4 linked regions of the Homo sapiens genome follow. The protein of the gene in region 1 interacts with the protein of each later gene in a biochemical or structural test. Each region holds a gene or a part of one and is shown in the gene's direction. Other genes may lie near its edges.

The links. The genes of interacting proteins can lie anywhere in the genome.
Region 2: the proteins of HTRA3 (region 1) and TRMT13 interact in a test that uses a peptide from one of them, tested with the Homo sapiens proteins (one large-scale study listed by IntAct).
Region 3: the proteins of HTRA3 (region 1) and KCNT2 interact in a test that uses a peptide from one of them, tested with the Homo sapiens proteins (one large-scale study listed by IntAct).
Region 4: the proteins of HTRA3 (region 1) and TMEM151B interact in a test that uses a peptide from one of them, tested with the Homo sapiens proteins (one large-scale study listed by IntAct).

Annotation. Positions count from the first base shown.
Region 1 is NC_000004.12:8,290,254-8,293,753, forward strand, and holds part of HTRA3 (serine protease HTRA3 isoform 1 precursor), read left to right. Parts: intron 1-1,116; coding exon 1,117-1,311; intron 1,312-2,067; coding exon 2,068-2,100; intron 2,101-3,500. UniProt on the Homo sapiens protein: Serine protease that cleaves beta-casein/CSN2 as well as several extracellular matrix (ECM) proteoglycans such as decorin/DCN, biglycan/BGN and fibronectin/FN1.
Region 2 is NC_000001.11:100,139,663-100,143,162, forward strand, and holds part of TRMT13 (tRNA:m(4)X modification enzyme TRM13 homolog), read left to right. Parts: coding exon 1-49; intron 50-519; coding exon 520-589; intron 590-745; coding exon 746-852; intron 853-1,189; coding exon 1,190-1,357; intron 1,358-3,474; coding exon 3,475-3,500. UniProt on the Homo sapiens protein: tRNA methylase which 2'-O-methylates cytidine(4) in tRNA(Pro) and tRNA(Gly)(GCC), and adenosine(4) in tRNA(His).
Region 3 is NC_000001.11:196,423,441-196,426,940, reverse strand, and holds part of KCNT2 (potassium channel subfamily T member 2), read left to right. Parts: intron 1-952; coding exon 953-1,089; intron 1,090-3,500. UniProt on the Homo sapiens protein: Sodium-activated and chloride-activated potassium channel. Produces rapidly activating outward rectifier K(+) currents. Contributes to regulate neuronal excitability.
Region 4 is NC_000006.12:44,273,450-44,276,696, forward strand, and holds part of TMEM151B (transmembrane protein 151B), read left to right. Parts: coding exon 1-57; intron 58-1,953; coding exon 1,954-3,078; 3' UTR 3,079-3,247.

The DNA of each region.
Region 1 (3,500 bases):
TCCCCATTATTGACAGCTTTCTCCTCGTATTGAAAGCTGCAAAGAGAAACTTTCTTATTTGACATGATGGTGTATAATAAAAGGGAAGAGGACTGAAACGATGAGAAGGACCAGTGGCCTGGTGGAGGGGAGCCATCCAGAGGGTCAGAGGCATGGGGTCCTGCCCCACTGATCTCCTAAGTTGGGGCAATGCTCTTGAGACCTGGCCGATCGCAGATCCACGGGAAGCTACAGGGTAGTGCCACAAGGTCCCAGGAGACTTTCCGCCAGCTTCCCTCAACGGTGACATCTTAGGTAATGGGTGCAAAACCAGAACCAGGAAGTTGATGTGGGTACGAGCACAGAACCGCCTTCCCCAATTTATCGTGTGTGTGTGTGCGCTTCGGCACCTTCTAACAAGCACCCGGGATTACCTTCTCAGAGTGTGCACCACGCAGCTTCTGGAACACAGAGCTTGGCTGTTCTCCTTGCTGCCAGGCTAGTTGCAGAGTCAGATAATCAGACAGACAGGCTCCGCTGGGCCCGCGCAAAAGCAGAAGAGGGGTGTGCAGGTGTCTCAGTGTGCGCGGCGTGGGGTGGAGCTCGGCTAGTGGCTTCACTTCTCCAGGCCTGAGTTCCCCCGTGTGTCTCTACTGGGAGATGAGATGGAACTGGATCAAGGATGTCAGAGTCCTTAGCTGGGCTCCAGTTGTCTGCAGATCTCTCTCCATCAAATGCATCAGTTTGTGTGTGGTGCATATGGTGTAGTAGTTTTTACCAGGTGTCTGCAGCTTTTACCAGATTTTTAGAGGCCATGTGACCATCAGATCATTGGGCTCAACGACCTTGGAGGCTGTGCTCAGCTGCACATGATGAGCACCCATGCCTGCCCTGGGGGAACCTCTGGTCCCTGGCACAGCTGAGCCTCTGTTCCGTGTACTCCAGCCCTGGGTCTCAGCACAGGACTGCCCTGGTCTTGGTCTGCACTGGTGACCTGCCTGAGCCTTCACAGTCCTGGTGGCTTTGCACAGATGTGCATGCCTTCCCTGGGACCCCCCTGCCAGGATCTGACTCCGGTCCCCGCTGAAGGTAGACGGCTAAGCCTCCCTCTCTGTGTCTTCTCCTTCTCTCTCCTAGAAAAAGCTCCCTGTGTTGTTGCTGGGTCACTCGGCCGACCTGCGGCCTGGGGAGTTTGTGGTGGCCATCGGCAGTCCCTTCGCCCTACAGAACACAGTGACAACGGGCATCGTCAGCACTGCCCAGCGGGAGGGCAGGGAGCTGGGCCTCCGGGACTCCGACATGGACTACATCCAGACGGATGCCATCATCAACGTGAGTCCCAGGGACAGGAGGCCGGGGCACCTGCCATCTGTGCCCAAGACCTCAACCTCGAGGTGGTCTCTGACTCGGCTTGCCCCCCTCCCCAGAGCCATTCTGGCACTCGACACATCCACTTGCTAGAAAGTTCTCTCTTTACATTCGGTGGAGCTCTAACCCTGTGACTTCCACCCCAGGGTGCCAGGCACGCTGGGAGTCAGAGGCTGCTGTCCTCGCTCGGGCAGCCTTTCAGAGAAACAGAGGCATGGCCACAGCCCGCAAACACCTTTGCCCAGCTTACACACCCTGGCCAACATTGCTTTTCATTATTATTGTGATTATGTTGGTGGCACGTTTAGCATTCACAAAGCACTTCACCCAGATGCCCCAGATCACGTCCATCCAGCTTTGCCGCAGCTCAGGCACTTGGCTGGAATCCGAGTCTTTGTAGAGGGCCCCCCCAGGCCAGCAGGATGGGAAGTAATACCCCCATTCTCCATGCACCAGGCGGTGCTGCCTGGCCTCCGGGGTGTAGATGCCGAAGCGTATGGTTTGTGCAGAGAACAGTGACAGTCAGACCTCGGTCATCAGGCAGCCATCCACATGGCCTTCTTATCTGTGAAATGGGGGCAGCACTGAGGCCTTTCGATGCTGCTGAGGATGAGACCTGCTTATGTGTCTCTGCACTGGTTAGAGGCAGATCTGGAGAAGGGGCTCCAGGAAGCCTCAGGCGGGGTCAGGCACAGCTAATGCTGTTTCCTCCCCTTGCAGTACGGGAACTCCGGGGGACCACTGGTGAACCTGGTAAGTGTCCCCTAGAGCCAAAATCTCTCAGGTTTCTGGGGTTCTTCTCACATGGGGGTGCTCAGCCTTGAGGTGGGACAGGGCCCACAATATGGTCCTAGAACATTTACACCAACAGTCGGGAGTGCAGCTGGGCCGGAGGCCTGGAAGGAGGAAAGACCAAGGCTGCCCCAAGCGCCTCGGGGATGCTAGTGGCCACCAGGAATGAGGACTCACCCATGAGCAGCAGCTCAGTCCAGGGCCATGTGCCTGTCAGGGGAGCTGGGGCAAGGGAGACGCAGGTGTGGGGCTGCTCACCTCAGCCCTCCCTGCCCTGGATGTACACACAGGATGACAGGGGCACCCTCATTCTCCCCTTCCCAGTTGTGTCTTGAGCCTCAAAGTCAAGCTCAGCCTCATCCCAGGTGAGATTTTTCCAGAATAAACCAGGAAGCTCAGTTCAGAGCTCCTAGGCCCTGAAGGATCGGACGGTCCCACCCCTGAAGCTCCTATCCATGGCTGGGGAGGTGTCCAGATGTGAACAAGCCCAAGCACCATGTGAGCCACATGAGATAGCTCTGGAGGGACGCTGGGCAGGAAGACCTGGCAGCTGATGTGAGATCAGGGAGGGCTTCCTGGAGGTGAGAGCATTATACAACAGCCATCGAGATTGAGGAGGACTGGGTACAGGAAGAAGAAATCCCAGGGAGAAGGCACAACATGAGCATTGCAGGAGGCTCTCAGAGGCTTAGGGAGGGGGAGGTCAGACAAGGGGACAATGAAAGGGGCTGGTGGCCCATGTCCTGCTGCCTCAGGCCTCGTGTGCAGATGGGGCTTCACCCTATGTGCCCAAGATGTCTCCCAGGCTTTTGGCAGGGCTGAGGCCGTGCCCTGGTTTCAAGGAAGCTCGTGTGTGTGGTTTAGGCTGGAGGCCAGAAAGCCAGGCCCAGGAGGCTGCTCCGCATGGTCCAGGCAGTAGAGATGGGCACAGAGGGCCGAGGGTGGACACAGAACTCAATCTACTGGATCTCACACTCGGATGCTCTTCCTGCCTCCTGAGCTTCCAGGGACCAGGAGGACAAAGGGTGCCTTGACCCAAAGCTCTGCCCCAGGCCCCAGAGGGATCCCTGGTGAGCTGGCCAGGCCCTGACAGGGAGGGCAGGGCTAGGGGTATAAGCCAGGCTGTGGGGTGGGGCTCCTTTCCAGGAGTGTGCCTGAGTGTGAGGTCCCCAGGGGCCAGGTCAGATCCTGCCCAAGTGGTACCAGCCTCATGGGGGGCAGGGCAGGTTTGGAGGGTCTCCAAAGAGAGGGATGGGGGGGTCAAGGAGCTCCCCTGGTCCCACCTGCCAGCCCCCCACTTCTGGAAGGTAGGGATAGACAGGGTCTCTGTCCCCGACAGGCCTTACCATGTTCCTCCCTCT
Region 2 (3,500 bases), on another chromosome or scaffold:
AGATATTAATGCAGGCTTAAGAGATGAAACAGAAATACCTGAACAATTAGTAAGTACATTGACTTAATATTTAATTTTAAAAGATATTTATAAGCTCTCTTCATGATGTGAATAAGGCATGTTCTAATTTTTGTCTCAAGTCTGTTTTTAATTTAGAATGCATTTTCCTGTAGACTTAATATTGTTAGTGATGGTTAGTTCCTAGACCCAGACCAGCTCATGCCCCATAACAAAAGAAGCTACAATATGGCCCTGAATCCCCTTTGATTCTTGAACCCTTCTGAGCCTAGACTTGTTCTTGACCTTGAGGAAGTTAGGAAAATTAAAGTAGCACAGCAAAGACGGAGTAGAAATTTAGCAGTTGGACAATTCTGATGGCAGCTTAGGGAAAAGGCTTGATAGAGAGAAGAGCCTAAGCTGTCATGGGATTTGCCCAGTTGGTAAACCTCTACTCAGTCTCTGTTATGCTACTTTAAAGCAATTTTTGGCTACATTATTTAGTTTTATTTTTGTATATAGGTTCCAATTTCTTCTCTATCTGAAGAGCAGTTGGAAAAGTTAATTAAGAAATTGAGAAAAGCAAGTGAAGGTAAGACTGCCTAAAGTTGCAAGTTCAATTATTTTAGAGTAATTAGGTGGTATATGAGTTGATACCATTCTGGTTTAAAATATGTTACTACTATTGTTCAGAATCCTACAATTACATGTTTGGCTGCTTAAGCTGTTGTGCTTATATTTGGCACAGGCTTGAATTCTACACTTAAAGATCATATTATGTCCCATCCAGCATTACACGATGCACTTAATGACCCTAAAAATGGCGATTCTGCAACCAAGCACCTGAAACAGCAGGTATGTTTAGGCTATAGTAACTACTAAACATGGCCTTTGTTCATTTGTTAAAACTGTTTTAAATGTAATTATTAATAAGATTTTATTTTGTTTACCTTTGAGGGTACCAAATATTTCCATTTCAAAAATATATAGAAACATATACAAAAAATTGAGGGCATGGATGTGATTCTGAGTACCGTATATTAAATATTTAAAGGCAAGAGAGAAAAATTTTAAGTCAAATACAAATTATCAATGTAAGCATACTGCCTTATGCAGAAATTACCTTGCTGTTTTCCCATTTGAACCAAATGTGTTTACTCTAGTTTATAAAATAATCTTGTGAAGTTTGCAGGCTTCTATTTTAGGTAACATTGAAAATTTAAAGTTACTTGGTCCAAGAAGATGCTTTGTTGAGTTTGGAGCGGGAAAGGGAAAATTATCTCATTGGGTTGATATTGCCTTAAAAGATGCTGAAAAAGTTCACTTCATCCTAGTGGAAAAGGTGACCACAAGATTCAAGGTAAGTGAAACCATTGCTCTGTGTTAGTAACCAAACTTGTTTTCATTTTTTGTATTCAGGAAAAAAGTGATAGAAACATTTCTTAAAAGAAAGGAAAGGAATTTTCTTTATCTGTTTGTTGTAGCTTTTTATTAGTTCTAATTGTATTGATAACTCAAACTGAAGGTGAATTTTTTAATCTAAGTTTTGATAGTCCATTGATCTGAATTCTTAAAATTATTTGCAGAGACAGGAAAATATATAGAAAGAGCCAAGCTCAAGCTAGGAGTTAAAAGTCTTGGGCTCTACTCCTATCTTTGCCACTTGCCCTTCATTCATTAAACAATTTTTGAGCATACTGCCAGGCCCCACCCAGGCTGAAGTACAGTGGCAGGATCGTGGCTCACTGCAGCCTTGACCTCCTGGGCTCATATAATCCTCCCATTTCAGCCTCATGAGTAGCTGGGACTATAGTCCCACGCCACCATGCCCAGGTAATTTTTTAAAATTTTTTGTGGAGACAGGGTCTCACTTTGTCGCCCAGGCTGGTGTCGAACTCCTGAGCTTAAGCCATCCTCCCACCTTACCCTTCCAAAGTGCTGGAATTACAAGTGTGAGCCACTGTGCCCAGCCACTTTATTACTTATATTTAGAAAAGAGACCCAGGCAAATACATAAATGATTGTAGTGAAGTGTTAAAATACGAGAAAGGTCTGCACAGAGTACAGCATGGTTTCAAAGAAGGGAGTGACAAGTTCTATTGCAGGGAAGAGATGGAGAATGACTATGTAGAAAAGGTGATGCTTGAACTAAATCTTGAAAGGTGAATTGGTGTTTGTTAGAGAGTTTGAGAAGCATTCTAGGAAGCAAGAACAGTGTAACCAAATACCTGAAATAACAGGAAAATATGGAAACATTCCTGTATAATGGGAGTACATGGTGCAAAGTAGAGTTCAGCAATGATGGGACTGGAGAGGATGGCTAGCCTATAGAAGGTCTCATATTTTATGCTAAGGAAGGAGTTTGACTATGCTGCTGTCTGGTGGGGATACAATAGAAAAAAGATTTAGTTCTTGGCTTTGAGGAAGCTTACGTCTAGTGGAGTAGACATATAAATATTTGTGTTCAGTATGCTAAGTGTGTTTTGATAGTGGTAAGTACCCAATCCTATGGGAGCATGAAGATAGAGCACCAACCTCAGTCTAGTGTGGGTCATAGAAGTTTTTGCAGAAGTGACAGTTGAGATGAGATTGAAATAATATGTAAGAGTTGGTAAAGTAGAAGGAAATTTTTCAAAGTTTATCCTAGCAGCACCATTAAAACTATATTAGAAGAGTCTGATACTTAGAGAGATTAATAATAAAGATAATTTTTGTCCAACAATCCAAGTAAGAAAGAGGCCAGAGCTAAAGCTATTGCATTGGGATGGAGAGGAGGGCAAGAGTATGAGAAATATTAAGATGTTGGAAGCCACAAGAGTTGGTGATTTGTTAGTAATTGAATATGAGAGATAAGGAGTAATTCTCGGTAGGATTTTTATGGCTTAGGTGACTAAGTGGTGTTCTTTCCTGAGATAAGGAATGAAGGAGGCACAAGAGGAAGGATGGTTTTGGAGACAGAAATAATGAGTTCAGTTCTGAATGTGTCCAGTTTGCTGGTGAAGTAGAGCTTTCTAGTTCACAATTGAGTATGTGTCTGATGCCCATTGGAGAGGCCTGAGCCACAAATGTAGATCAGCCGGTCGTGGGCACATAGGTATAGATTAGAATGGTTGTGATCTTTCAGGAGAGCAAGAAGAGGAGCGAACCAAAAATAGTACACCAGGAGTGACAAAGATAAAGGAGCTAGTAGACAATCTTAGATAAATCACTTAAGATCTGTGAACTTCAGTTCCTTTGTCAGTGAATTGGGAATTTTTAGGGTTAAAGGAAATAATGTCTATGTAATAATTGATAAACATTTTCAAATCTTTTTTAAAAAGTGTGATATTTTGAAGTTCTCATCAAAGAATGTACAATCTTAATTTTTAAATATGTTCTGTTGCTCTGAATTTTGAAAACCAATAAAAATCTTTTTATTTTCATAAAGCTTTTTTAAATGTAAGAAGTGATTATTACAATAATGTTCTGTTTGTGCAGGTGGATGGAAAACACAGAAAGAAAAA
Region 3 (3,500 bases), on another chromosome or scaffold:
GAAACTTATGGTCACGTGTAATGCGAAAGGGAAGCAGGTGTGTCTTCACATGGCCAGAGCAGGAGGAAGAGGGTGGTGATACATACTCACTATCAGGAGAACAGCAAGGGGGAAATCTGCCACCGTGATTCAGTCATCTCCCATCAGGCCCCTCTCTTAACATTTGGAATTATAATTTAACATGAGGTTTGGACAGGGACGCAAATCCAAACCATATCATACAGTCATTAACTTTATCTAGTATCAATGTAGAGAATTATTTAAACTCCAGAAATTCCTAGTAGATATATTTTACAGCAGTAAAATGGTGAATGTTTACCAGAGAATTTTAATTTCTATAAATCATTGGTTTAAACTGTTTCACCACTCAGATGTAATTTTCTCCAAAGGACCATATATTTTGTAATATTTTGATATCATGTTCATTTAATTTACTTTGTCAGTATTTTCAGTGTTTTTATGGATCCTTATTCATTCAAATATTCATCAGAAACTGTTCAAAATTATTGTTTCATAATTATATAGCTAAATGATATAAATCGCTATCACAATTTTGATCCTAAAAGTAATGAAGTATGAATTGATACTTAAATGCTTCTGCCTGGTGTTCAATGTATATTTTAGGATCAGTCTGTAGATAAAACTAAAACCTTCACAAGCTGAAAGTGTGTGCCAGGTATAACCACTGATTACCTTCCCTTATGGTCTTAGTAAGACTGAAATAAGTTGAGATGAATTTATTGATTTATGAGATTTGTGTATGTCCCAGTTGTATTTATTATAGTGTAATTGCTATTTAATATATGTCCAGGTTTTAAATGTGAAATTTTATTAGCAAAAGTTCATTTCAGTTTTATCATATTTCAAATTTTTCTTAGATATTTTATTTTTCTATGTAGTGTAACATAAAACATTTTTGTTTCTATTCCATTGCCCATTTTGTTTTGAATAGGATTATTATGTGGTGATTTTGTGTCCTACTGAAATGGATGTACAGGTTCGAAGGGTACTGCAGATTCCAATGTGGTCCCAACGAGTTATCTACCTTCAAGGTTCAGCCCTTAAAGATCAAGACCTATTGAGAGCAAAGTAGGTATCCCTGCCTTTCATCTTGCAGCTTACAGTTTTGAGTGACTTAATATTTTCTCTTTCCTCCAAATTTTAGCAATTTTCAGTGTTGCAAGATGTGTTAAAGTATGTTTGAGTATAGACTCTTGCCTTAGTCCCTCTGCTGGCCAAACTAAAAGGTCAAAAATATATCATAAAATCAGTGTGTTTACTCCTCTTTTTCAGCCTCATCTCAAGGCAAAACTGTTCAGAAGACTGTGACCACACAGCACAATGAAAAAAGTGGCCCAGAATAATTATCTTAAGCTGTCAGAGATTCACTGAGGTATCCAGACTCACTGTTAGAGTAGTCTCCAAATCCCCGAATACTGTTTTTATCCCACATATAAAAATTGTGGGCTAAATATGGTGTGACATACCAGTGCAGTGTGAGTTAGGGTTTACATTTTAAAGAGCTTGCACTATGTATTGGACACATAGCACTTGTGTTGCCTGGGGTCAGAGAAAAAATGGTTGCCATGGACTAGAGGAATCAGAAAGGTGACAGGACTTACTTAGCTACCCTCAGCTACCCTCTTCTTTTTGTGCATGTACCAGGCAATTTGTCTTAAAGGTGACATAGTCTTAAACATTTGTCACAAGTTACCAAGTTGTATCATATGAGTAGAGTGAGAGTATTATTGAGCATAGCGTGGACACCACAGAAACAGAGTTTCTGCAAAACAGTCTCCTTAGTTTCAGATGCCAGAAGGTATCTTCAACAAAAGTGGTTTTGCTCAATATTTTCTGCTGTTTTTAAAGTTTTAAACATATCTTCATGTTTACCCTTGAGTTGTCCTGCATACTCTTCTAGATTTAAAAGTCTCCCACTGAATTGAATAGCATAAGTGCTTTATACTTTTTTTTTTCTTTCCTGGATAACCTGAGTGTGCATGAGCGGGTGTGTATTTGTGCCTGTCTTCACTGTGTGTGCAAGTGTGTGTGTATGTGTGTGTGTGTGTCTGTCTAGTGGGTGTTGGAAAAGAACAGAAGAAAAGTCAACTGTTTTGTGGAACAGACTTCTGGACTCCTTTGTGCTGCATAATCCTTCAAATGATGACTAGATACCTAGTCAGGAACTCTGATGTTACCTTTGATTTATATATAATAAAGTCGATTTAATGGAGTTTTTTTTCAATGATTCAACTTCTGAAAAAAAAACAGCACGAGAAACTAGCAGGATATAATGAGTGTTATCTAATTGGAAAATTACATTTCTTTGTGAGTATTTTCATCTTTTTGGTGGATTAAATACTTTATATTTGTGGTCATTGTACATGTGACAGTTCTTTAAGTCATCAGATTTTCCCAGCACCTCAGGTAAACCCTGGCTTTAGGTGTTTACTGTTTGCTATCTATACTCATTATTTGGGTGTGCTAGAGAAATAGATGCTTAGATACTACTGTAATCTAGATCATTGTATTCATTGGTGTAGATAATCAATATTCTTAATTTATTGTATGATAGTTAAGTTCTTCACACAATAAACATGAATAACATTCATATTATGTTCAATATGAATTTGTGTAATACATGGAGGCTTCTTTCCATCTAACAAATTTATCTGAGTTATTGGTATTAGCTATTAGTATCTAAGCTATATACTATTTAGGATTAATGTAACTAATTTATTACCAATAGTCTTAAAATGATGTCTTGGTAAAAGCGACCATATTTACAAGAAGAATTCCTCCATGTGATAAAAGAAAAGGGAAGGGAATGAAGGAGAGAGAGAGGTAGCTATCTGGTCATACTCTAAAAGCTATTTAAAAAAACAAGTTAGAGTGACGCAGTATCCATTTTTATGTTCATTTCCAATCTTAGCTTCCTATAAAATATTTGGGATTTAATATAAACTAATACATTTTTCAGTGCAATTCCTCATGCATAGAGCATGGAGTAGGATTCTCCAAACAAGTTTCATAGGTTAGTTACATGAGTTTTGAATTGTTTAGTTGAAAATGGTGTTTAAAGAAAGTTATCCAACACTCATATTATCTTAATAACCATGGTGCAACATTTTCCCAGAACTGTTTGGTTTGGTCTTATTTCAAGGACTTTTATATTTCCTCCCCATAGAAACCATTTTTTTTTTTGGAAAATATTTACTTTATCACAGAGAACCACAGAGATAAATGATTCCTCATTTTGAAAATAAACATTCTTGTGCTCTTAGAACATCATGTATCAAACACTAAAATATACTGTGTCTTTATCACTAAACTTAAGAAATATTGAACCCTAGTATGAGGGGAAGGGGCTTGGAAAAAGATGATGAATGATCTCCAGGAAGTATAAATACAAACTAGAGTTTTACTTATGAATACAGAGGAGCTGTATTCCACCCCTCTTAGTTTGATTCAGACATTACAGTTAAAATACTATTAATCAT
Region 4 (3,247 bases), on another chromosome or scaffold:
CGCCGCACCCGCCAGGTCACCAGATACCGCAATGGAGACGCCTATACCACCACCCAGGTGAGGAGCTGGTGGGGAGTGCAGGACATTCAACATGGGAGGTGGCACTTACGTGCTGCCTCACTCCCTCCCCACCTCCCTGGGGGGAAGGTGGGAGGAGCAAAAGGCAGCAGTGAGCTCCCATGAGCATTGCAACAGCAGGGCAATAGCAACAACCATAATCATAACAGCAAAAACCGACCAGGAGCCAGGCTCTGCTCTAAGTATTTTACACACATCAAATCATTTATTTAACCCTCATAACAACCCTATGATGTAGGCAGGTATTCCCATTTTGCAGATGAGGAAACTGAGGCCTGGAGAGTTTAAGTAATGTGTCTAAGGTCAAATAGGCAGTATGTGGTGGAGATGAGACTTGAACTCAATCAATCTGGCTCCAGGATCTCTATACTGTTTAGTGCTTAATGGATCTACTTAGTGATTAATGGCAGAGTGTGGTGGCTCAGGCCTGTAACCTCAGCACTTTGGTGAGGCAGAAGGATCTCTTGAGCCAGGAGTTTGAGACCAGCCCACCCGGCAGCAACATAGTAAGACCCCATCTCTATAAATAATAAAAAGAAGTAGCTGGTGTGGTGGTATGCACCTGTAGTCCCGGCTACTCAGGAAACTGAGGTGGGAGAATCGCTTGAGCCTGGGCAGTTGAGGCTGTAGTGAGCTGTGATTGCCACAGTGCAAGACCCCATCTCAAAAAAAAAAATAAAAATAAAAATAGTGCTTAATGGCTGGAGATGGCTTCACATGCCCAGTATCATAGCATGCTCTTACCTGTTCAGTGAGGTGACTGCTACTGAGTTCTTTCACAGGTATGGACACCTAAACTCAGTGACTTGTCCAAAGTCTGCTGCTCTTAAGTGGTAGTGCTAGGCTCAATCCCAGCTTCCTGGATGTCAAGTTCAAGGGTCTAAGAGGAGGTGGGCGTAGGAAGTCTCACTGAGGGTGGGCAGGTCAATCAGCACTTTGTGGACTCGCCAGGATGAGACATATTGGGGTCCTGGAGGAGACGTTCCCAGATGCAGGCCATCTGTCTCAGTATAAGGATCAATAGACAGAAGCCTGGGGCGGGTGAGAAGCAGGAAGGAGGCTGATGATAGCTACAGCGTGAACAGGCAGACTAGAGATAGAGGGGTTCTTTAGGGAGTGCTTCTGGGGAACCCATTGGGAAACACAATTGTAAAAGGGAAGAAAGAAGAAGAGGAGGCTGTTTGTGGTGATGTGGGGGCACTTTGGAAAACAGAGGCAGTGGCAAATGGATCAGGCAGGCCAGAGGGGCAGTTCATGGCCAGGGCCTGACCCCTAGAGGAAGCAGGGCTTAGTTAAAATTTAAATGCGCGGCCGGGGGCGGTGGCTCATGCCTGTAGTCCCAGCACTTTGGGAGGCCGAGGCGGGTGGATCACGAGGTCAAGAGATCGAGACCATTCTGGCCAACATAGTGAAACCCCGTCTCTACTAAAAACACAAAAAATTAGCCTGGCGTGGTAGTGGGCGCCTGTAGTCCCAGCTACTCGGGAGGCTGAGGCGGGAGCATGGCATGAACCCGGGAGGCGGAGCTTGCAGTGAGCCGAGATGGCGCCACTGCACTCCAGCCTGGGCGACAGAGCCAGACTCCATCTCAAAAAAAAAAAAAAAAAAAGAAAAAGAAAAAGAAAAAAAATTTAAATGCGCACAGGTAGGGCTGGTTCTAGTCCGGTCATCACGTCTGATTACACAGAGGGCGTCAGTTGCCCTGTAAGTCAGACGGAAAGATCCTAACCAGCTCCAGCCGGCACCTAAACCAAGACAGACTTAGGGTCCGACCAGGCAACCAGAGCACAGATGGGGCGGGAAAGGGTGAGTGGGCAGAAGCGGGCACCAATGACGGGCTCCCCGCGACCCCGCCGCCTGCCCCCCGCGCCGCAGGTCTACCACGAACGCGTCAACACGCACGTGGCGGAGGCTGAGTTCGACTACGCGCGCTGCGGCGTTCGCGACGTGTCCAAGACGCTGGTGGGGCTGGAGGGCGCGCCGGCCACGCGGCTGCGCTTCACCAAGTGCTTCAGTTTCGCCAGCGTGGAGGCCGAGAACGCGTACCTGTGCCAGCGCGCGCGCTTCTTCGCAGAGAACGAGGGCCTAGACGACTACATGGAGGCACGCGAGGGCATGCACCTCAAGAACGTGGACTTCCGTGAGTTCATGGTGGCCTTCCCGGACCCGGCCCGGCCGCCCTGGTACGCCTGCTCGTCGGCCTTCTGGGCCGCGGCGCTGCTCACGCTGTCGTGGCCGCTGCGAGTGCTGGCCGAGTACCGCACGGCCTACGCGCACTACCACGTGGAGAAGCTATTTGGCCTGGAGGGCCCGGGCTCGGCCAGCAGCGCAGGCGGTGGCCTCAGCCCCAGCGATGAGCTGCTGCCCCCGCTCACCCACCGCCTGCCGCGGGTCAACACAGTAGACAGCACGGAGCTCGAGTGGCACATCCGCTCCAACCAGCAGCTGGTGCCCAGCTACTCTGAGGCGGTGCTCATGGACCTGGCGGGGCTCGGGACGCGCTGCGGCGGGGCAGGCGGCGGCTACGCGCCCTCGTGCCGCTACGGTGGGGTAGGCGGCCCGGGCGCGGCGGGCGTGGCTCCCTACCGGCGCAGCTGCGAGCACTGCCAGCGCGCCGTCAGCAGCTCGTCTATCTTCTCGCGCAGCGCCCTAAGCATCTGCGCCAGCCCGCGGGCCGGCCCGGGGCCCGGTGGGGGCGCGGGCTGCGGGGGCAGCCGCTTCTCGCTGGGCCGTCTCTACGGCTCCCGGCGCAGCTGCCTGTGGCGCAGCCGCAGCGGGAGCGTCAACGAGGCCAGCTGCCCCACGGAGCAGACGCGGCTGTCCAGCCAGGCCAGCATGGGGGACGACGAGGACGACGACGAGGAGGAGGCCGGGCCGCCGCCGCCCTACCACGACGCCCTCTACTTTCCGGTCCTCATCGTCCACCGGCAGGAGGGGTGTCTGGGCCACAGCCACCGGCCGCTGCACCGCCACGGCTCCTGCGTAGAGACCTCACTGTGACCTCCGGCCCCGGAGTGGCCCGCGCCGTCCTCCCGCCTGCCCCTCGCCGGACTGTGCTCCCTCTGCGACGCAGGGCGAGTCACCACGGTGACTGAGGCCGCGCGGGGGGCAGGGAAAGGGAGGTGAGGGCCGCAAGACAGGCCCGGATGGGGCCGAGACCCCCGCTGTC